Linked DNA regions of Homo sapiens: regions 1 and 2 are each linked to region 3. Evidence: fine-mapped expression QTL. A gene starts in region 3. Each other region holds a variant in brackets. All regions are shown on one strand. Distances are between the middles of the regions. Region 1 overlaps TOP6BL (TOP6B like initiator of meiotic double strand breaks). Region 2 overlaps TOP6BL (TOP6B like initiator of meiotic double strand breaks). Region 3 holds the start of TOP6BL (TOP6B like initiator of meiotic double strand breaks).

Evidence for each region. PIP is the estimated chance that this variant, and not a neighbour inherited with it, causes the effect.
Region 1: its variant is the best candidate, but not a certain one, in a credible set for the expression of TOP6BL in blood mononuclear cells (TOPMed, PIP 0.87).
Region 2: its variant is the best candidate, but not a certain one, in a credible set for the expression of TOP6BL in whole blood (INTERVAL, PIP 0.90).

Annotation. Positions count from the first base shown.
Region 1 is chr11:66,765,035-66,772,782 of GRCh38, forward strand. All of the region lies in intron 2 of TOP6BL (TOP6B like initiator of meiotic double strand breaks), which reads left to right. It also overlaps the pseudogene FTLP6. Among named protein-coding and RNA genes, the nearest start is that of TOP6BL, 24 kb to the left of the region's middle. The variant T/G (reference allele first, on the strand shown) is at 3,641.
Region 2 is chr11:66,820,544-66,828,291 of GRCh38, forward strand. TOP6BL (TOP6B like initiator of meiotic double strand breaks) reads left to right here. Exons shown (of 15, transcript NM_001302084.2): 10 at 1,100-1,221; 11 at 2,021-2,131; 12 at 7,723-7,748. Among named protein-coding and RNA genes, the nearest start is that of RCE1, 19 kb to the right of the region's middle. The variant TTTA/T (reference allele first, on the strand shown) is at 3,877.
Region 3 is chr11:66,740,100-66,747,847 of GRCh38, forward strand. TOP6BL (TOP6B like initiator of meiotic double strand breaks) reads left to right here and starts at 4,670. Exons shown (of 15, transcript NM_001302084.2): 1 at 4,670-4,820. It also overlaps a transcript of SPTBN2 not described here. RefSeq lists enhancers at 3,897-4,397, 4,889-4,998, 5,439-5,528 and silencers at 4,359-4,748, 5,159-5,258.

The DNA of each region.
Region 1 (7,748 bases), 25 kb after region 3:
CAAAATAAACCCACACTTAATGTGCTTGTACAAGGAGTGGTCAGATCATATATAAGGCTACTTGTTTGACTAATATTTGTGAAAGTGCTTTGAAAAAAGTGAAAAGCCGTGTAACTACAAGAGAATAGTTTTATTATCATTGTTACTCTTAGGGAGTATCATTTATGGGTTATCATTTATGGAATAACCACATACTCATGCCAATACAAACTCTAGACAATTTTTGTCATGGTGACTTAGTTTTAATTTAACTGTTACTTTAAAAACTCAAAGCAATTTCATTTAATCCTTATTGTGATAAAGTGTGAGTGGCTAACTCTTCGTACAAAGAGGAAGTACTGCACATCAAGTACATAATTAAAATTGAATCATTTGCTCATGCTCAATCACATTTAGTAGCCAACTGTAGCCTAAGTCTTCTCTCCAGTTGTTAGGGCTCTTAATATTAACCTCCACTCAATAATGCTAGTTATTCTTTTTGTTTGTTTGTTTGTTTTTGAGATGGAGTCTCACTCTTGTCACCCAGGCTGGAGTGCAGTGGCGTGATCTTGGCTCACTGCAACCTCTGCCTCCTAGGTTCAAGAAATTCTCCTGCCTCAGCCTCCCAAGTAGCTGGGATTACAAGCGCCTGCCACCACGGCCAGCTAATTTTTATATTTTTAGTAGAGATGGGATTTCACCATGTTGGCCAGGCCTGTCTCGAACTCCTAACCTCAGGTGATCCACCCGCCTCGGCCTCCCAAAGTGCTGGGATTACAGGCGTAAGCCACTGTGCCTGGCCTAGTTATTCTTACTAATTAGTAACAAAAATTACTCAGTGAACCTCACAAAGGAAATTGGTGAAGAATAAGACAGGAATCCCTTAGCTCCCTGGTTTATGCACCATTAATTATGCCTTTTTTACTATTATTATTTAGAATTTCTGACACTATTAAGCTAATAGCAAACTGCTTTAAATTGGTCCATTTACTGATCTTTACACTGTTTAGTTAGCTTCATCAGGGAGTCTCTGGCAGCTGGATTCATTACTCATCAGTTTTCTAGATGCTAAAAAATTGTGTATCTATACAAAGTTAATATGTCTGTAAATTCAGTTTAACTCTGTTGTTTTCTTCATTATTTGGCTGATTTCTCTCAGTGTCTAAAACAAGTGGTCTGACCCTTCTTTAGGGGAGCTGAACTGTTGAAGAACTATCAGCTTTAGTTTCCTTTACTCTTCAATCTGTTCTACCAGGGTTGTATCAAGGTACTTTTTTCTCTGGATCTGGAATACTTTAGATCAATTCCTGTACCAAATAGGCTCATATTTCTGTGTATTTTATTTATGCTGGATTAATAAGCAATGACCATTGTAATCTCCCTACTCACCTACTTCTCTACTGGTTTATTTTCTCTTTTTTCCCCTTTCTTCTCTGGTCCCTAACTATTTATACTTTTATTCAGTAAACTTTTATTGTAACATCTACCTTGCCACAAAGAAGTCACAGGAAGTAGAGGCAGCTCTGCAAATAAAATGCAGTGTGATTAGTACTGTAATGGAGGTGTAAGTTGAAAGAGCTTCTCTCATAACCCAGAGGATATTCCCCAAAGTTCAGTCACCAATGTGCTTTTCTTCCCTTCATTATTCTGCATCATTATTCTACATTCAATTCAGACAGCTTTTCTACTTTCAAGACTTTAACTAACATTAACTATGCTGATGAGACTTATTTTTCCCCCTCTTGATCACTGACATGTCTCCTAAACTCCAATGGAATAGCTTTGAATGTCAATTAGACTATTCCATTTGAGAGTTCCTCTGAAATATCCTGTGTAACATGTCTAACATGGGGTTCAGTTTCTTGAAATGAACTTATTGTGTAATGTCTGCATTCCTTTCAGTGATATTGACATACTCATAATTCTCCAGCGTTAAAAATCTTGGTTTTTATGGTGGGGTTTCTCCTTTTTTGTTTCCTCATTATGTAATTGATTTTTCGTTAATTCTGCCTTTATAATATAAAATTCTTATTAATTTAAACATAGCTTACATTCTTCCCTTAATGATTCCTTATTTATTATTATATTAGGTCTAAGTACTTCAGACCAGAGTTAAGGCCTTCTCTCAAGAGGATAATCCCCTCTACTTTGCAGAATAATGCCCATTAAGATAGATAAGTTCTTATGTGTTTAAAAAATTGTCACTACATGTTAAATGTGTGCTACTGTCTGCATTGAATACTTATCTACTTAGGTATAATTCCATTTATATATTCATTTATGTGTATACTTATCCATTTATATAGAACTATTTCTATCATAAATGTCTTTTAGTGAAACATGATTGTTTCAGTTTGTCCTATTTGCTCAGCTCTGCTTCCTATTATGTCCTTATTCAAGTGAGGAAAGGAAAGTGGATGGAGGAATATGAAAAAAATCCATGTTTATAGATCTTTATTTTGCTGCTTTTTCCTCTTTCTTCTATTCATATTATTTTTATTTTTGTCTTTTTAAAATAGCTTCTCATTTCCATGTTTATTGACATAACTTAGCTCTTTATACAGTATGGCCAGTTATTTTAAAAAGATGTGCAAGTGTTTTTCCCAAATAAAATTTACAGCCTTCTTTTTTCTTCATAAGACTAGATAAGAATACCAGTCCTTGTAAACAGGGAGGACTGCTTTGCTGTTGATATATGGTTACATGGCTATGATAGTTCAGTTTTTGCCTCTTCCCTATATGCTACCCTTTTGGTGTCAGGGAGACTTTTTTGTTGTTCATTGTTTTGTTTTTTGGAGGCAGGGTCTTGCTCTGTTTCCCAGGCTGAAGTGCAGTGGCATGACCACAGCTCATTGCAGCCTTGACCTCTTGGGCTCAAGGGATCCTCCCATTTATAGCCTTCTGAGTAACTGGGACCACAGGTGTGTACCACCATGCCCAGCTAGTTATTTTATTTTTTGTAGAGATGAGATCTCACCATGTTGCCCAAGCTGGTTTTAAACTCCTGGGCTCAAGCGATCCTCCCACCTTGGCCTCTCAAAGTGTAAGGATTACAAGTGTGAGCCTTCATGCCCAGCCTGTTTATTTTCAAGTTTACTTTTGTCCTCTTTGTTAATTTGTTGGGAAAGAAAGTGAGGAGTGGTGCTTTTCATGGGTTAGAGAGATTGACAGGTCCAGACTTGCTCAACATTGAGTAAGAAACTCACAATGGTGAACTCTTGAATGTCTGACGTAATCAAGTTTTTTTTTTTTAAGTCTGAGATTCTTGTATTCAAGAATAAAAATCTATTATAATTTTATATCTTACAAAATCAACAACTCTAAGGCTCAGAATTTATCTAACGCTTTTTCCCCCGGGAGCTCATTTTGTAGACATGATCTCATTCATTCTTGAGGAGCAGTCAGACATAAGTGTTATCATCATCTCTGTTTCAGAGATGAGAAAACTGAGACTTAGCCTCATATACTAAGAAGGGAAACATTTGTAGACTCATAGGTTGCTGGTTATCCATTAAACTGTGAGAGACTACACTTAATTTTAAGCTTTTGATACATTCTAAACAGGCTGTTGTTGCCAAATTTACCTAACGCTTGGTAAGATTTTATAAAGGTTGGCTGAAGATCAAGACACGCTAAAACAGATTTTTGTTTTTTGTTTTTT[T/G]TTTTTTTTGCTTCCTTAATATTTCTTTACTCTTTTCCTTGTTACATTTATCTAATTGCACTTCACTATTGAGAACATGTTCAAGATTTGATGTGACAGAAGGGGATGGAAAGGACAGAAGTGGTTTTTACCAACCCTGACATATTCCTTTTCCTTTTGAACTTGGATAGATAAAACAGGAGGAAAAGGATAGCTCTTATTATTAGAGATCCTGGGAGCTGGCTCATTCTCTGGCTGAGTGGTACATAACTGCTTTTATTCAGCAGCCCATGAGAGCTAACCTGCCTTGTACCTGGCTGGCTTAAAATGCTTGAACTGTTACAATTCCTCATTGAGTAATCAGCTGGGCACTTACTGTTCCAACTCTGTCCTTCTGGGTTACCACACATCTTTCATCTTCTCAGCTGGGAACACAAGGAGAGTTGTCTCCCTATAGTGGTATAGTGGAATTTGGCTGGAATGGGAAGAGGGGATACTGTATTTTTTCTTGAGTAGACTTTATGGCTAGCCATTTAATACATTCTGAAAAATGGTCAGATGACATCACATAGAAAAATTACCTCAAAATGGATCAAAGAACTAAAGCTATAAAACTCTTAGAAAAGAAAGAAAGGTTTAAATCTTCATGACCTTGGATTAGGCAATGTTTTCTTGGATATGACATTTAAAGCACAAGCAACGAAAGGAAAAGTAGAGAAATTGGATTTAATCAATATTAAAAACTCTTATGCTTCAAAAGATGATACTAAGAAAGTGAAAAGATCAATTATACCTAAAAAAAAAAAAGCTGGAAAATGAAGGTCTCTAGTTCCAAAACTCAGAAAAAAAAGGTGAATAAATAATCCACAGATAAGAAAAGTCTAGTATCCAGTGTACATATAGAACTTATACAACAACAATTAAAGGACAAATAGCAAAATTCATATGGTAAAGCCCCAACCCCCAGTGTGATAGTATTTGGAGATGGGGCCTTTGGGAGGTAAGTGGGGTTAGATTAGATCATGAGGGTTGGGCCTTCATGAGATTAGCAGTTTTATTTATTTATTTATTTATTTATTTACTTATTTTTTAATTTTTATTTTTTGAGACAGAGTCTCACTCTGTCGCCCAGGCTGGAGTGCAGTGGTGCAATCTTGGCTCACTGCAAGCTCCACCTCCCGGGTTCATGCCATTCTCCTGCCTCAGCCTCCCGAGTAGCTGGGACTACAGGCGCCCACCACCACGCCCGGCTAATTTTTTTTTTTGTATTTTTAGTAGAAATGGGGTTTCACTGTGTTAGCCAGGATGGTCTCAAACTCCTGACCTTGTGATCCGCCTGCCTCGGCCTCCCAAAGTGCTGGGATTACAGGCGTGAGCCACCACGGCTGGCCTGAGATTAGCAGTTTTATAAGAAGAGGAAGGGAGAGAGAGATTATTCTCTTTTTCCCTCTCCCTCCCTTGTATCCACCAAGGAAAGGCCATGTGAGGGCACAATGAGAAGGCAGCTATCTGAAAGCCAGGAAGAGAGCCCTCATCAGGAACCAAATCAACTGGCACCTTGATCTTGGCCTTCCCAGCCTTCAGAATTGTGAGAAATAAATTTCTCTTGTTTAAGCTACCTAGTTTATGGTCTCTTGTTATGGCGGCTTGAGTGGACTAAGACAACATTTATCCTAAAAAGATACACACATGGCCAGTAAACCCATGAAAAGATAGATGCTCAGCATCATTAGTCATTAGGGAAAAATGCAAGTCAAAAACATAATGAGGCCAGGCACGGTGGCTCATGCCTGTAATACCAGCGCTTTGGGAGGCTGAGGTGGGAGGATCACCTGAGGTCAGGAGTTGGAGACAAGCCTGGCCAACATAGTGAACCCTCATCTCTACTAAAAATACAAAAATTAGCTAGGCGTGGTGGCCGGTGCCTGTAATCCCAGCTACTTGGGAGGCTGACCCAGGAGAATGGCTTGAACTCAGAAGGTGGAGGTTACAGTGAGCTGAGATCACACCACTGCACTCCAGCCTGGGTGACAGAGCCAGACTCTATCTCAAAACAAATGCTCCACACACCAGTGGTAATATGAAATTGAAGTTTTTTAAACTCCATCTTCCCCTTTACTTCCCTCTTCTCTTTCCTGACACCCCTTCTGGCCTCCTTACCCATCGTTGGCCACTTAGCATAGTATAATCCCCTGCTGCCTTGACTTTCTACTTTTTCTTTCTTATCAGTCTCCAGGCTTGGGTAATCACCATTATTATTATTTTTTCATTCTTATTTCCAAGCTGCCAAGTGTTACTTGTGTAAATCATAAAACTGAATGTTGGGTACGCTATAAATTTAAGGAGAATTTCTAACTTCTTGGGGTTGTTCAGTACTCTTATCTTGTTTATTCTTTTATATAATTCTCATAGTGTATATTTCAAATTACCTGACACTCAATAAATGTCTTTACCTTCTATTTTTCTGAAAAGGTTGAGGTTATCCAAATGGCACTTCTTCTGGATTTCTTTTTTTCTTTTTTTTTTTTTAGAGATGAGGTCTTGCTATGTTGCCCAAGCTGGTCTTGAACTCTTAGGCTCAAGCAATCCTCCCACCTCGGCCTCCCAAAGTGCTGGGATTACAGGCATGAGCCACCATCCTCAGCCATTCCAATTTCTTTTTAAGAAATTTAAATTTGAGGCTGGGCGTGGTGGCTCACGCCTGTAATCCCAGCACTTTGGAAGGCCAAGGTGGGCGGATCATGAGGTCAGGAGATTGAGACCATCCTGGCTAACATGGTGAAACCCCGTCTCTACTGCAATAGAATGTGGCTGCCATGCTGGCTTTGCAACTTCAAGAGATCCTCTGCACCCTTACACTTCTCAGCCAATTTGTGGAAGAAGTGGCCAGTGCCTTCCAGTGCCACATCATTGTGGTCAAAATAGAAGCCCAGAATGAGAGAGATGTAGGAGGCCTACAGATACAAATTGACCAGGCGATTGACAGCTGCCTCCAACTCGATGAAATAATTCTGATGAGTCTAGTTGGCAAGAAGGAGCTAACCACAAAAACAGTGTTGGCTGGTCTCAGAAGCAGGAGATGGCCGAGAAGATGGTCCTGGAGGTTGCAAGTGGAGAGGACAGTGGAGGGCAGTTGGAGGCTGGAAGAGAGGGAGTCCCTGGGTTTGTTCCATCCAAATACTATTGAAGCAAGAGACAGATGGGTGGGACTGTCAAATGCACTGCCAGAACATCCATGAACAGCTCATGGTTCAAGAAGTAATTTCAACTTTTAAGGCTTATTATTTAGGAAATACATTTTATAAGACTATAGCTGCCATAGATAGTGAGTAGAGTCAATTAAAAACCTTCTGGAAAGGAGTCACCATTCTAGATGCCATTAAGAGCATTCGTCATTCATAGGAGGAGGTCAAAACATCAACGTTAACAGGAGTTTGGAAGAAATTGATTCCAACCCTTATGGATGACTTTGAGGGGTTCAGTACTTAAGTGGAAGAGTTAACTGTAAATGTGGCCCGGCCAGTAAGTGGTATTTTTTTAAGAATTTCATTTTCCAACTGTTTCTTGCTAGTATTTGAAATACAATTGATGTTTATATATTTTTCAAGCTTGCTAAACTAGCCTGGGAAACATAGCAAGGCCCCATATCTACAAAACATTTCTAAAAGTTAATTGGGCATGGTGCTGCATGCCTATAGTCCTAGCTACTCAGGAGGCTGAAGCAGAAGGAGTGATTGAAACCAGGAGTTGTAGGGTGCAGTGAGCTATAATTTTGCCACTGCACTCCAGCCTCGGAGACAGAGCAAGACCCTATCTCAAAAAATAAAAATCTTGGCCGGGCACCGTGGCTCATGCCTGTAATCTCAGCACTTTGGGAGGCTGAGGCGGGCAGATCATCTGAAGTCAGGAATTCGAGACCAGCCTCGCCAACATGGCGAAACCCCGTCTCTACTAAAAAATACAAAAATTAGCTGGGTGTGGTGGTGCGTGCCTTTCTTCCCAGCTACTCCAAAGGCTAAGGCAGCAGAATCAGCTGAACCTGGAAGGTGGAGGTTGCAGTGAGCTGAGATCATGCCACTGCACTCCAGCCTGTATTGTTAGATTTGATTTGCCATAATTTTATTAAGAA
Region 2 (7,748 bases), 80 kb after region 3:
TGCCTGTGGTTACTTTAACAGAGATAATCTCCCATTTAAAAGGACCTCATACCAACAGTTCTGTGTCATCTCTGTGAATTTTAACCTTTTCTTTACCACAGTACGTCTGAAAGCACTGCCACAACAGTGATGTTCACATAGACGTAGAGTAGGGTTAGACACACTCTATAGGACCTTTGCTTCTCCCTTTCTCCTCTCCTTTGGGAGTCACTGGGATTGTTGTTTATAGTACATGGTATATATTTCTGCTATGAATTAAACAGGATCCCTTATTTGTTTCTTTAAAAAATAATGTCATTCTCCACCTTAATTTTCCTGAGCTTTCTTAGATTTATGAGTGGGAATTAGGTAGGTGTGTAAGTTGCTGGGAGATTTTGTCTAAAAAAAGGTAATTATTTGTGGATATGTAGGGGTCTCTTCTTCCAAGAGGCATCTTTCCCACTCCCAGTCCTGACTCAAAGCACATGAACAGCAATCTTGAAGTAGTTATCCTCGCTCATGGTTAATCCTTGGATAATGCAAGCCTGATACCATGTTCTGAGCCCTACTGAACATTTCTAAAGAACTCGGATTCCTCAGAAACCAGTGTTATCATTCCTGAACTACTGTGATAATTTGTACACCTCTGTTTAGCTTGATTCTGAGGGCCTGCAGTATCTCAGTCGTTGTACTCAGTATTGGATTTAAAAGAAATTCATCAGTGTATTAGTAAACAAGTGTCTTAAATCTTACACATCTGGTAATTTTTTTTTTTTTTTTTTTGAGACGGAGTCTCACTCTGTCACCCAGGCTGGAGCGCAGTGGCACAATCTTGGCTCACTGCAAGCTCCGCCTCCCGGGTTCACGCCATTCTCCTGCCTCAGCCTCCCGAGTAGCTGGGACTACAGGTGCCCGCCACCGTGCTTGGCTAATTTTTTGTATTTTTAGTGGAGACGGGGTTTCACCGTGGTCTCGATCTCCTGACCTCGTGATCCGCCCGCCTCGGCCTCCCAAAGTGCTGGGATTACAGGCCACATCTGGTAATTTAAGACTAGCTTTTGCAGATGCACAGTGAGGGGAGGTAGATATAGTGATAATTTTACCTTCTCCCTCCCCTTAGGAGTCTATACTTTGCTCACAACTCATCTCAATGCCATCCTTGTGGAGAGCCACAGTGTAGTGCAAGGTTCCATCCAATTCACTGTGGACAAGGTCTTGGAGCAACATCACCAGGCTGCCAAGGTAATAAGGAATTCACAGCCTCTTTTCTCCTATTCTCTAAGAAAAAGATAGCAAGCATATATGGCAGGCAGGGCCCAGGAGCCCTTCCTCCCTTAATGCCCCTTCCTCTCCTCTTCTGTCACCTGGGTGATCTTGTAACACTGCATCTAGCCTACAACTCAAACTTTAGCTTAGATGGATCACTGTAACCAGCTTGCTTAGTCTTACCTCCTAGTAGGTGTGTTTGGGTAAATAGGGAAATAGTTAATAGGGAAAAATGGCTGATAACACACCTCTTCCTTATGCATATAATTCCCCTTCCCACACAGACTTCTGGAGCTGCTGTTTCGCTGTGTCTTACATTCTTCCCCCATTTTCCTAATTCTTTACACCACCACTTTCTCTCCTTACCTGATTTTCTACATCCATCCATCCTGTGTACTTTTGGTAACACATTTCTTACCTCATATGGCCCCCTTTTCAGGGAAAAAACAACCACACTAAGAGAGCAGAACTAAAAGCTTTTTTTTTTTTTCCCAAATAGTGTGTCTGTTTTCTTGATCATTGTCCTATTGCTTGTCTTCTCTGATGTGTCTGTGTCAGTAAGTCACCTCTGTGAAATGCAAGAACATTTTAAAATTTTATTTTAATTCCCTAAGTGTTATGATGTAAAAATATGTGAGGATCTCAGTAACTTTTGTTGATGGATAGGAAGAATTGTTGAAATCCTGCTCTGATGGAAATGTGTGGGCCCTCTGGGATTCTCTAAACCACATCTTGGGATTCATGCAGTCTCCCCCTTACTTGTTATGTTCCCCAGGCTCAGCAGAAACTACAGGCCTCACTCTCAGTGGCTGTGAACTCCATCATGAGTATTCTGACTGGAAGCACTAGGAGCAGCTTCCGAAAGATGTGTCTCCAGACCCTTCAAGTTAGTAGGAGATTGGGATTGGGGATGCTTAAAAGTGCCAGGGTTTTGGCTGGGTACGGTGGCTCATGCCTATAATCGCAGCACTTTGGGAGGCCAAGGTAGGAGGATTGCTTGAGCCCAGGAATTTGACACCAGCCTGGGCAACACAGGGAGACCCTGTCTCTACAAGTAATTAAAAAATCACCCAGGTGGAGTGGTGCACACCTGTGGTTCCAGCTCCTCAGGAGGCTGAGGTAGGAGGATCAACTGAGCCCGGGATGTTGAGGCTGAGCCGTGATCATGCCACTGTACTCCAGCCTGGGCAACAGACTGAGACCTGTCTTAAAAAAAAAAAAAAATGCCCAGGGCAGTGGCTCATGCCTGTAATCCCAGCACTTTGGGAGGCCAAGGCGGGTGGATGACCTGAGGTCGGGAGTTTGAGACCAGCCTGACCAACATGGTGAAATCCTGTCTCTACTAAAAATACAAAATTAGCCAGTCGTGGTGGCAGTTGCATGTAATCTCAGCTACTCAGAAGGCTGAGGCAGGAGAATTGCTGGAACCCAGGTTGGGGAGGTTGCAGTGAGCCGAGATCGCCCCATTGTACTCCAGCCCAGGTGACAACAGCGAGACTCCACCTCAAAAAAAAAAAAAAAAAAAAAGCCAGGATTTTAATGACATTCTACTGCTTATCTTTGTAAAATGTACAGTATTTTTAGAAACATTACTTTATTTGCTCCACTGTGATGCTACATAGTACCAGGCTTAAGTTTTAAGAAATATTTGTTGGAATAGTAGTATGTATACCATTTTACAAATGAGAAAACAAATTATTTAAGATTTCTGCTTTCTTTAGGTCACACAGCTAGTTAAGAACAGAGCTAGGGCTGGGTGTGGTGGCTCATGCCTGTAATCCCAGCACTTTGGGAGGCTGAGGCGGTGGATTGCTTGAGGTCAGGAGTTCATGACCAGCCTGACCAACATGGTGAAACCCCGTCTCTACTAAAAATACAAAAATCAGCCAGGCGTGGTGGTGCACGCCTGTAGTCCCAGCTACTCAGGAGGCTGAGGCAGAATTGCTGAAACCCGGGAGGTGGAGGTTGCAGTGAGCCAAGATCACCCCACTGCACTCCAGCCTGGGTGACAAAGTGAGATTCCGTCTCAAAAAAGAATAAGAAAAAAAGAACAGAGCTAGGACTAGATCAGTGATTCCTAATCTAATTCCTTGTTGAAAAATGCTATCTCATGGTGACAGAATACACTGGAAATAACTGAGCAACCTTACCTATTACGTGTATGTGGCAGTACGGAATCAGAGGCTCAGGTTCAAATCCTGACTCATTTACTTATTAGTTATGTTTAGGCCTATAGTTCTGAGACTTGTCTACAAATTGGAAAAAGTAATAGTACCTCACAGAGTTATTATGAAGGTGAGAGCTAAATGTGTGCTATGGTCTGAATGTTTATATATCCCCAAAATTCATATGTTGAAATCCTAACCCCCGAACTGATAATATTAGGAGGTATGAGGCCTTTGAGAGGTGATTTAGGTCATTAGGCCTTCATGAATGGGATTAGTGCCTTTATTTTTATTTTATTATTATTTTTTGAGTCGGAGTTTCGCTCTTGTTGCCCAGGCTGGAGTGCAATGGCATGATCTTGGCTCACCGCAACCTCCGCCTCCTGGGTTCAAGCAATTCTCCTGCCTCAGCCTCCCAAGTAGCTGGGATTACAGGCATGCACCACCATGCCTGGCTAATTTTGTA[TTTA/T]TTATTATTATTATTATTATTATTATTATTATTATTATTATACTTTAAGTTTTAGGGTACATGTACACAACATGCAGGTTAGTTACATATGTATACATGTGCCATGTTGGTGTGCTGCACCCAGTAACTCGTCATTTAACATTAGGTATACCTCCTAATGCTATCCTTCCCCCCTCCCCCCACCCCACAACAGGCCCTGGTGTGTGATGTTCCCCTTCCTGTGTCCATGTGTTCTCATTGTTCAATTCGCACTTATGAGTGAGAACATGTGGTGTTTGGTTTTTTGTCCTTGCGATAGTTTGCTAAGAATGATGGTTTCCAGTTTCATGCATGTCCCTACAAAGGACATGAACTCATCATTTTTTATGGCTGCATAGTATTCCATGGTGTATATGTGCCACATTTTCTTAATCCAGTCTATCATTGTTGGATATTTGGGTTGGTTCCAAGTCTTTGCTATTGTGAATAGTGCCGCAATAAACATATGTGTGCATGTGTCTTTATAGCAGCATGATTTATAATCCTTTGGGTATATACCCAGTAACGGGATTGCTGGGTCAAATGGTATTTGTAGTTCTAGATCCCTGAGGAATCGCCACACTGACTTAATTTCGTATTTTCAGTAGAGACGGGGTTTCTCCATGTTGGTCAGGCTGGTCTCAAACTCCCGACCTCAGGTGATCCACCCGCCTTGGCCTCCCAAAGTGCTGGGATTACAGGCCCGAGCTACTGTGCCCAGCCGGATTAGTGCCTTTATAAAAAAGGCCCCAGGCCGGGCGTGGTGGCTCATGCCTGTAAGTAATGTCAACACTTTGGGAGGCCAAGGTGGGTGGATCACCTGAGGTCAGGAGTTCCAGATCAGCCTGACCAACATGGTGAAACTCTGTCACTACTAAAAAAAAAAAAAATACAAAAAAAATTAGCCAGGCGTGGTGGCAGGCGCCTGTAATCCCAGCTACTTGAGAGGCTGAGGCAGGAGAATCACTTGAACCTGGGAGGTGAAGGTTGTAGTGAGCTGAGTTCGCACCATTACCCTCTAGCCTGGGTGACAAGTGCGAAACTCTGTCCCAACCAAAAAAAAAAAGGCCCCAGAGAGACCCTTGCCCCTTCTGCCATGTGAGGACACAGGGAGGAAGTGGGCAGCCTACAGCCCAGAGGAGGGCCCTCACCAGAACCTGACCATGCTGGCACTTTAATTTCAGATTCCCTGCCTCCAGCACTGTGAGAAATCAGTTTCTATTGTTTATAAGCCACCCAGTCTATAGGAATTTGGTATAGCAGCCCGAATGGACTAAGACAGTGTCAAAGTGCATAGCATACGGTAGATTCTCAATAAATGTTAGTGTTTCCCTTCCTTTAGGAATGTGTGCTGACCAACTGGTATTATCAATGGGCAACTTATCATTCCATATTTGTTGCTTTTTTTTTTTTTTCTCTGAGACAGTGTCTCGCTCTGTCGCCCAGGCTGGAGTGCAGTGGCGCGATCTCAGCTCACTGCAAGCTCCGCCTCTCAGGTTCACGCCATTCTCCTGCCTCAGCCTCCCAAGTAGCTGGGACTACAGGCGCCCGCCACCACGCCCAGCTAATTTTTTTTGTATTTTTAGTAGAGACGGGGTTTCATCGTGTTAGCTAGGATGGTCTCAATCTCCTGACCTCGGGATCCGCCCGCCTTGGCCTCCCAAAGTACTGGGATTACAGGCATGAGCCACCACGCCCTGGCCTGCTTCATTTTTTTGGTATAGTTTTCTTGAAAAGCTAGTATAACACAAAAAAATTTTAAAATAATAACTAATAAAATTTATCACTATAATTTTTACTCATTATCTCATATATATTTGTAACCAAAGCATTCTATTTTCATATATAATTTGCCATTTTCCCCATTTCAACAGTCTTAGAATTTTTAGTTAATATCCCACTGTATTGTTTAAATCTAATTTAATAAACCATTCCTCTGTTAGACATTTGTTTACATTCTTGCTTATATAGTGGTTCAGTTAATACCTTTATGTAATATCTTGCTTCTTTTGAATTATTTTCTAGAACAAATTTCTATAAATGGAGTTATGAGTCAAAGTGTATAACACATTTATAAGCTAGTGCATTTTATCATAGCTTCAACTTTCTGGGTCATGTGGATAGCACAGGGTAGTGAAAAGAACACTATATTGGGAATTCTAAGGTATCCATTAAAGCCCTAACTTTTGTACTAACTAGCTGTGAGATCTTGGGTGGGTCACTTCTTTTTTTTTTATTTTTTATTTATTTATTTTTTTTGAGACAGAGTTTCGCTCTTGTTGCCCAGGCTGGAGTGCAGTGGTGCAATCTCGGCTCACTGCAACCTCCGCCTCCCAGGTTCAAGCAATTCTCCTGCCTCAGCCTCCCCAGTAGCTGGGATTACAGGCATGTGCCACCACCCCTGGCTAATTTTGTATTTTTTAGTAGAGACAGGGTTTCTCCATGTTGGTCAGGCTGGTCTCAAACTCCCGACCTCAGGTGATCCGCCTGCCTCGGCCTCCCAAAGTGCTGGGATTACAGGCATGAGCCACCACACCTGGCTTTTTTTTTTTTTTTTTGAGACGGAGTTTCGCTCTTGTTGCCCAGGCTGGAGTGCAATGGCGCGATCTCGGCTCACCACAACCTCTGCCTCCCAGGTTCAAGCGATTCTCCTGCCTCAGCCTCCCGAGTATCTAGGATTACAGGCATGTGCCACCACGCCTGACTAATTTTTGACTCTCCTGCCTCACCCTCCCAAGTAGCTGGGATTACAGGCATGCGCCACCACGCCCAGCTAATTTTGTATTTTCAGTAGAGACAGGGTTTCTCCATGTTGGTCAGGCTGGTGTCAAACTCCCGACCTCAGGTGATCCACCTGCCTTGGCCTCCCAAAGTGCTGGGATTACAGGCGTGAGCCACCGCGCCCAGCCCACTTCTCCTTTTTGAATTTCAATTTTCTCATCCATAAAATTAGTGTGATGTATTAGGTTATTACCCTGGTCCCCTTTAATTCTAACATCCTATAATTATATATTTAAAAGTAGAAAGCTGTTACCTATTTCCTGTGGGTGCAAACTGTATTATTTTGTTCCTCTCCTCCCTAAAAGACTCGTCAGAAAAAAAAAAAGTCTCATATCAGCCTCAGTTATGCAGTAGAACCTGTGCTGTCTTGGAAACTCTTCTTATAGAAGAGCAGTTTATATAACCCCTTCATGAACAGATGGATCTTCTGGATATTTATCTCCTACAGAGATGGGAGAACAGGCCAGGCGCAGTGGCTTACACCTGTAATCCTAGCACTTTGGGAGGCTGAGGCGGGTGGATCACCTGAGGTCAGGAGTTCGAAACCAGCCTTGCCAACATAGTGAAACCCTGTCTCTACGAAAAATACAAAAATGAGCCGGGTGTGGTGGTGCATGCCTGTAGTCCCAGCTACTCGGGAGGCTGAAGCAGGAGAATCACTTGAATCTAGGGGGCGGAGGGTGCAGTGAGCCAAGATTGTGCCACTGCACTCCAGCCTGGGTGACAGAGCAAGACTCTGTCTCAGAAAAAAAAAAAAAAAAAAAAAAAAAAAGAGAGATGGGAAAACAAAGACCTTCTTTGAAGGATCTTGCTTAGATGACAGAAGTGGGAAGACATATAGGAGCCACAACTGCCTGTCTTACACCAAGTATCTCAGGCCTTCTTTTTTTCTCTACTGCCTTCATGAAAACTAAGAAAACTCTTAACTTTAATGGCTTGCCTACTGTCTGCCTCCTCATCTCCCTGTATAAACTTTCTGTGAGAACTTTCCCCCTTGGTTTCCAGTACTGGAACTCAGCATGTTCTATTTCTGGCCCATTTTAGGCAGCTGACACACAAGAGTTCAGGAC
Region 3 (7,748 bases):
AAAAATTGGACAATAATAGGAAAGGAATGAAATCTCCTGGGCTGGCCCAGCACCTGCTACTGGTGGATGAGAAATCAGACTTTGTGCAAAGGGTGACTTGGCCAGGAAGAACAGGAAGTTAGTCAGTATCATAGTCAGTTATTCAAGGAGAGGAAGAAAACAGGGAATGGGGGTGAAGAACGAAATACTCGAGTTATATAAACTTTGGTACTGTCCCAGGAAAAGAATCTCTCTTTTCCCCTAAGTCTTAGAAAGGGGAAGAACAGATGCTGTAGTCCAAGAATTGCACAAAAGTCAGCACCATTATGGCCTCTAGTTGCCCCCATTAGCCCAATAATATTCCTCTGCTAGAACATCCCTGTCTGACCCCTGATAAGAAAGCAGAGGGAGGTGAGTGGTGAAGCTGCCCCAGATTCTGTGCTCCAGGTGGAGAAGGCCTCAAGAAGGTGAAGGGATGAGCTAATCTGAGCCTCATGGCCCCATTTCCAAGGATGTGATTAGTGGAGAGTCACCTGGGACCTGCTCCATTTCAGGAAACCCGGTTATGGGAACTGGTATGGGACAGACTTTGCTCAGGACCCGAGAGAAGCAGTTAACCCTTTCCTACTGTCTGGATGGGAAACAGCTTAATAGTTGCTTGGTTCTTTCCCAGGGGAGGGAGTCTTCAAATGGACTTCCTTTTGCATCAGCTTGGAAAGGCGGACCTCAAGGATATTTTCTACTTAAGTTCCTAGGGTCAGCCTCTTTAGGGCATTTGAAAGCTCTAGGGGAGCCTAAGAAACAAGGTGGGGCCTTAAGAAGTGTCTAGGAGACACAGAGAGGGCACATTCAAAAGGAAAGCTCAACAGTCCCTAAAATGTCATTGTTCATCTGGCAGCACTCCCTAGGATGTTCTGGTTCCACTCAAACCCTTGAGTTTGGGTCAGAATCAGTCTTGGGCTCTTCTTATAGGGGGGCAGGGAGTGTGTCTCAGACAGAGGGTTTCTTTTTGGAATAAACAAGATATCCAAAGTAGACATGTGATATGGTTTGGCTGTGTGACCATCCAAATCTCATCTTGAAGTGTAGTTCCCATAATCCCCATGTGTCATGGGAGGGACCAGGCGGAGATAATTCAATCATGGGGGCAGTTTCCCTCATCCTGTTCTTCTGATAGTGAATTAGTTCTCAAGAGATCTGATGGTTTTATAAGGGGCTTCCCCCTTCACTGGGCACTCATTCTTCCCCTTCCTGCTGCCATGTGAAGAAGTATCTGTTTACTTCCCCTTCTGCCATGATTCTAAGTTTCCTGAGGCCTCCCTAGCCATGATGAACAATGAGTCAATTAAAACTCTTTCCTTTATAAATTACCCAGTGTCGGGTATGTCTTCATGAGAATGAACTAATACAACATGAAACAGTAATATAAATTCTGAGGTGGGTGCAGAAATGGAAGCAGAATCAATATGTCACCCAGTCTAAGGACTGGAAATAACTGGCTCCCTACAGACACTGCCAATAAATGAGACCTGGAAGGCCAGGGCTGAAAATATCGAGAGCCATACTCAAAGCCTCCTTGGTTGGCCTAGTTAACTAAGGTGACCTTAACCAAGGGCAGGTCATTTAGTTTCTTTGGGCTTCAAATTTCTTCATCTTAATAGATAACTGATAATTTCCAAAGTCCCTTCTGGCTCTAACATTCTAGTGTTCTGAGGATGAGGTCTGAGCAAAAAACCGTTTTTAAAATTTTAATTTTTTTTTTGAGACAGGGTCTTGCTCTGTCACTAAGCTGGAGTGCAGTGGCATAATCATAGCTCACCGCAACCTCCAACTCGAGGGGCTCGAGATCCTCCCACCTCAACCTCCCAAGTAGTTAGGACTGTAGGCATGCATCACTGTACCTGGCTAATTTTTAAATTTTTTTGTAGAGACAGGCTGTCACTATAATGCCCAGGTTGGTCTCAAACTCCTGGCCTGAAACAATCCTCCTGCCTTGGCCTCCCAAAGTGCTGGAATTACAAGCATGAGCCACCATGCCTGATTTATTCATACAACTTCTTCTTGGATTCTCATTTTTATCATTTCTAAAACAAAGATAACATCTTTCTTACAAGATTACAAAATTGGGAGAACTGCTTAAGATGAATAAGAAAAAGTGAAGAGCACTTAGCACAGAGTGGATTCTCACCATATATCAAGCCTATATTGCATGCTGCCTGAATACGTGGGTTTACGCTACGGAAGTCCTGATGGCAAACCCTCATATCGAAGGCTTCCCTCCTTGCTTCTCCCTATGTCCAGTAGGGAGGACAGCTGTGTCCCTGGCTACCTTTGAGAGGCCTCCACTGCCTCTAGGGTGGTATTGGGTGCTCCATTACACCTTTATCCCTGAAGTTCATTCCAAGGACAAGGGCTGAAAGCTAGAGGCTCATTTCCAAGGACAAGGGCTGGAAGCTAGGAAACCAACTCATCTTCATTCTCAATGCCATTCTCAAGGTGGAGCATTTTCTGCTGGGCCAACACTCACAATGATAATTTTTTTTTTTTTTTAGACAGAGTCTCACTCTGTCAGCCGGGCTAGAGTGCAGTGGTGTGATGTCAGCTCACTGCAACCTCCACCTCCCGGGTTCAAGCAATTCTCCTGCCTCAGCCTCCCAGGTAGCTGGGACTACAGGCACATGCCAACACGCCTGGCTAATTTTTGTATTTTTAGTAGAGGTGGGGTTTCACCATGTTGGCTGGGCTGGTCTCGAACTCCTGACCTCAAATGATCCACCCACCTGGGCCTCCCAAAGTGTTGGGATTACAGGCGTGAGCCACTGCGCCCGGCCACGATGGGAAATATTTTAAAGAACCATCCTCAATACCTTGGTTTCTCACCCATAAAATAGTGACGATAACAATTTTCTTACAAGATAGTTGAGAGGATGACATCATTTATGTAAAGAGCTAGTGGGGTCCGACAACAAGCAGTCATTCAATGTTACTGGTCCCTTCCCCTTGGCAACTCCTCTTCTGAAAAAGGACAAGAGACTGGGGGTGGGGATGGGGAGCTCTGCGGGGGGTGTGGGGGGAATGAAAGGAAGACTCCAATGATTCCTCAAATGCCAGCTGTTTATCAAGTTTGATGGTTACGATGGATTTTCCAGAAATAAAAGCTACCTTGCTCCAATAGGTCTACCTGTGAGCAACTGAGATGGGGAGGAATGGGGAGGAGCGCTGAGCATAGACTCGAGAAGGGTATGATTCAGGTCTCGATAGACAATGTTCTTTGGAGTAGCACCAAGGTTGTGTACTGGGCAGGCACTCTGCCAGCTCGCCAGCCTGTTCTGTCCAATCCTGGCGTCTTGGAGCTGGGGTGGAAGAATTTTTCCTGAAGGAAAGCAGCCAACACCCTGTCCCACCCTTCTCCTTGGGCAACTCTTTGCCAGGCAGGAATCTCTCATCAGGGTTTTCTTTTGGCTGTCAGATCACCAGCAGTTATAGGCTTAAGCCCCTGTCACCATGCCCCTCCCGGAACCTGGCAGAGAGCAGCAGCTGGGACTCTGCAGGACCTCCTTATTCCAGCCAGGAATGCACTTGGAAAACCCCAGAGCTTCTCCTGTCAGCCAGAGCCCAGAAAAGCCAGCTCCTGGTCTTGGCACATTCAGTGCAGTCAAACGTGGAAAGGGGCCTGGATAGGGAGGGGTCGACTCCCAGGTCCCACCTTTGCGGGGGAAGCTGGTCCCCCTGGATTAGGCTGGGAGATGCTTGGGGCTGGTTGTAAGGTAAAAGACGGGGGGTCGTTTTTTCTTTTTTTGAGACAGAGTTTCGCTCTTTTTGCCCAGGTTGGAGTGCAATGACGCGATCTCGGCTCACTGCAACCTCCGCCTCCCAGGTTCAAGCAATTATCCTGCCTCAGCCTCCCGAGTAGCTGGGATTACAGGCGCCCGCCACCACGCCCGGCTAATTTTTGTATTTTCAGTAGAGACGGGGTTTCACCATGTTGGCCAGGCTGGTCTCGAACTCCTGACCTCAGGTGATCCACTCGCTTCGGCCTCCAAAAGTGCTGGGATGACGGGCGTGAGCCACTGCGCCCGGCCCAGGGCGTCGTTTTTAATTTCAGATTAGTAATTTTTTAGTATATGTCCCAAAAATTGCCGAGATATGTGTATGGTTATAAAAAAAATTCGCTGTCTATATGAAATTCAATTTTAATTGGCCGTCTTTTTCTTTGCTAAGTCTGGGACCCAGGGCTTGGCCTGGGGCAGCCCCCGCCGCAGACAAGGCTGTTGGAGGGGTCACGAACCCGCTTGGTAGCCCCGCGCCGTTACCGTCGCCCCTCCCGGCCGAGGGAAGGGTCCTGGAAAGCGCGAAGGGCGGCCAAAGCCCGGATTAGGGCCAAGGGCCGCATCTCGCCGCCACCGTGGGAAACTATCTTTGAGAGGAGGGAGGAGTCGTGGCCTGGCCTCATTCCCGCTCACCTCCAGCCTTGGCCGCCTCTCGCGGGCTCTTCCCCGCCCCGAACCTCCCACCTGCGGGCCCACTGGCACCCGCGGCGCTCAGAGGCTCTAGGTGGCTCCCGGCGGCGGTTCGCGGTCTCGGGGCCCTGCAGCGTCGAGTGCGCAGGCGCGGCGGGCAGGTGGGCGGGGCGTGCGCGGGCGCAGGCGCGCGCGCGGGAAGGGATGGGCTCGCGCTGCCGGGCGTGGGCGTGGACTCGGGCGTGGGCACTGGCGGAGTTCCAAGCCCGGGCTGAGGAGGGGGCGGCGGCGGCGGCGGCGGCGGCGGGCGGGTACCCTTCGACTGGGCGTTGCCGCTGTTCCCTGCGCGGCATGGAGGGGACGGCCGTGGCCGTGTTCGAGGTGATGCTGGGAAGGGAGAGAAAGCGGAGGACACTTTCTGAGGAGACGGGCTTTGTGAGGAGACCGCGAAGTTTGGGCAGAGGGGTCGGGCGTCGCCTAAGGTGAAGGAGGAAGGTTCGGGAATCGAGGCCCGTCTCCCACGGGGAAGCGAGGAAGTAGGAGCAGATGAGGGCTCTCGCTCGCGGGGTACTCTGTGGGGGAACGACGCCCTCTCTCCAGCCTACGGCTCAGAAAGCTGCGGCGTTTGCCGAGCACCGGCGGACACCCAGGGGCAGAGCCTGACGCAGCCTCGGAGGTGCCTGCCGGAGCCCAGCGCCTTCCATGCACCGGGTGCTGGGAGGGGGCGCGGAAAGAAGGAAAGGAATGGGGCAAGCCCTGGCGTTGCGGGGCGGGGTGGGGGGAGTCGGGGCGCCAGGACAGAGGCAAGGAGGGACCCAGTGCAGACTGGGAGCGAGGGAGAGTTTTTTTAGGCCCCGGTGCAGGTGCAGGTTTCTGGGTTCGAAGCAGCTGGACGTGGAAGGGCGAGGTTCAGAGGCCACACCTGTGCTCGGGGAGCTGCTCTGGAAGACGGCACTGAGCGCCTGGCGCCGGCCACGCCCCGTGTGCTCATTTCATTACCCACTTTCACGGCCGGTGCCCAATGGGACGTTGAGCTGCTGTTTGTGAGGGGTACTGGGCAGGTGACAGAAGCACAGGCTCTGAGGGCACCTGAGAGAGTACCCCCGGGCGTCCTGCCTGTTTGTTGTCATCAAAGAAGGCGGCGGGATTCCATTTTACAAATAACCGAACCTAGGCTAGAACCCAGGGCGCTGACTCATAGGCCAGTGTTCTTTTCCCAACTGCGCTGTCATACCGACATGAGAATATCTTTAGGGTTTGTTTGTTTGTTTGTTTGTTTGTTTGTTTTTTGAGACGGAGTCTCGCTCTTTCGCCCAGGCTGGAGTGCAGTGGCGTGATCCCGGCTCACCGCAGTCTCCGCCTCTCGGGTTCAAGGGATTCTCCTGTCTCAGCCTCCCGAGTAGCTGGGATTACAGGCGCACGCCGCTACACCTGGCTCATTTTTGTATTTGTAGTAGAGACAGGTTTTCACCATGTTGGCCAGGCTGGTCTTGAACTTCTGACCTCAAGTGATCTGCCCGCCTCCGCCTCCCAAAGTGCTGGGACCGGCGTGAGCCACCGTGCCCGGCCCGATATGGGAATATCGTAACAGAGGACGTGTGAAGGAATAGTTAGACTCTACACGTACCTGGAAACCATTCTTGTTAACTGGTACAAATGAGGATCTTAGTTCCCAGATCTCCCTGCCTTTAAAAAGGGGGTAATAATTTTCCTTGTGTTGCCTCCCTGTAAAAGTGAGAATCTGTTTGCATGAATAATAATGGGAGTTGGCCGGGCGCGGTGGGTAGCCTGTATTCTCAGCACTTTGGGAGACCGAGGCGGGCAGATCACTTGAGATCAGGAGTTCAAGACCAGCCTGGCTAACATGAGGAAACTCCGTCTCTGAAAAAAATACAAAAATTAGCGGTGGCTCACGCCTGTAATCCCAGCACTTTGGGAGGCCGAGGCAGGCGGATCACCTGAGGTCGGGAGTTCAAGACCAGCCTGATCAAAATGGAGAAACTCCGTCACTACTAAAAATACAAAATTAGCCAGGTGTGGTGGCACATGCCTGTAATCCTAGCTACTTGTGGGGCTGAGGCAGGAGAATCGCTTGAACCCAGGGGGCGGAGGTTGCAGTGAGCTGAGGTCGCACCATTGCACTCCAGCCTGGGCTACAAGAGCAAAACTCCATCTCAAAAAAAAAAAATTAGCAGGGTGTGGTGGCAGGCGGCTGCACTTCCAGCTACCTGGGAGGCTGAGGTGGGAGGATCACCTGAGCCCGGGAGGTTGAGGCTGCAGTGAACCATGATGATGCCATCACTGCACTCCAGCCTGGGAGTCAGAGTGAGACTCTGTCCCCTCTCTCCCCCCAAAAATAAATGAAATATATTTTATTTTCAATTTGTCTCGAATAAATGTGTTTTTTTTTTTCTTTTTGAAACGGAGTGTTGCTGTTGCCCAGGCTGGAGCGCAGTGACCCAATCTTGGCTCACTGTGGCCTCCACCTCCCGAGTTCAAGCAATTCTCCTGCCTCAGCCTCCTAAGTAGCTGGGGCTACAGGCACACACCACCACACCCGGCTAATTTTTGTATTTTTAGTAGAGATGGGGTTTCACCATATTGGCCAGGCTGATCTTGAACTCCTGACCTCAGGTGATCCACCGCCTCAACCTCCCGAAGTGCTGGGATTACAGGTGTGAGCTACCACACCCGGTCGATTAAATGTTTTACCCAGACATCTTGGAGTCCTGTTCAACTTAAAATATTGTGTGTAGTCTTTACTGCATTAGAACTTAGAAATAATAGCTAATATCTGTTAAGCATTTGCTATTTGCCAAGTACTGTGTTAAGCATTTTGCACATATTTTTATTTAATTTTTTTTTTTTTTTAGTAGAGATGGGGCCTCACTATGTTTCCAGGGCTCAAGCGATTCTCCCACCTTGGCCTCCCAAAGTGCTGGGATTACAGGCATGAGCCACTGCGCTCAGCGTTGCACGTACCTTATTTGTTTACTTTCAGCAGCAGCCCTATGTGGTAGTTTTATCCCCATTTTAATAGATGAGGAGTCTGTGGTTTGGAGAGATTAAGTAATTTGCCCAAGGTCACATGCTAGAATTTGGCACATCAGGGATTCAAATCCAGGTGTGGAGTGCAGTGGCCTGATCAGGGCTCACTTCAGCCTCAATCTTATGGGCTCAAGAGATCATCCTGCCTCAGCCTCCCCAGTGGCTGAGACTACAGGCACACGCCACCACGCTGGGCTAATTTTTGTTGTTGTTAGTAGAGATAAGGTCTGCGTATGTTGTCCAGGCTGATCTCAAACTGTT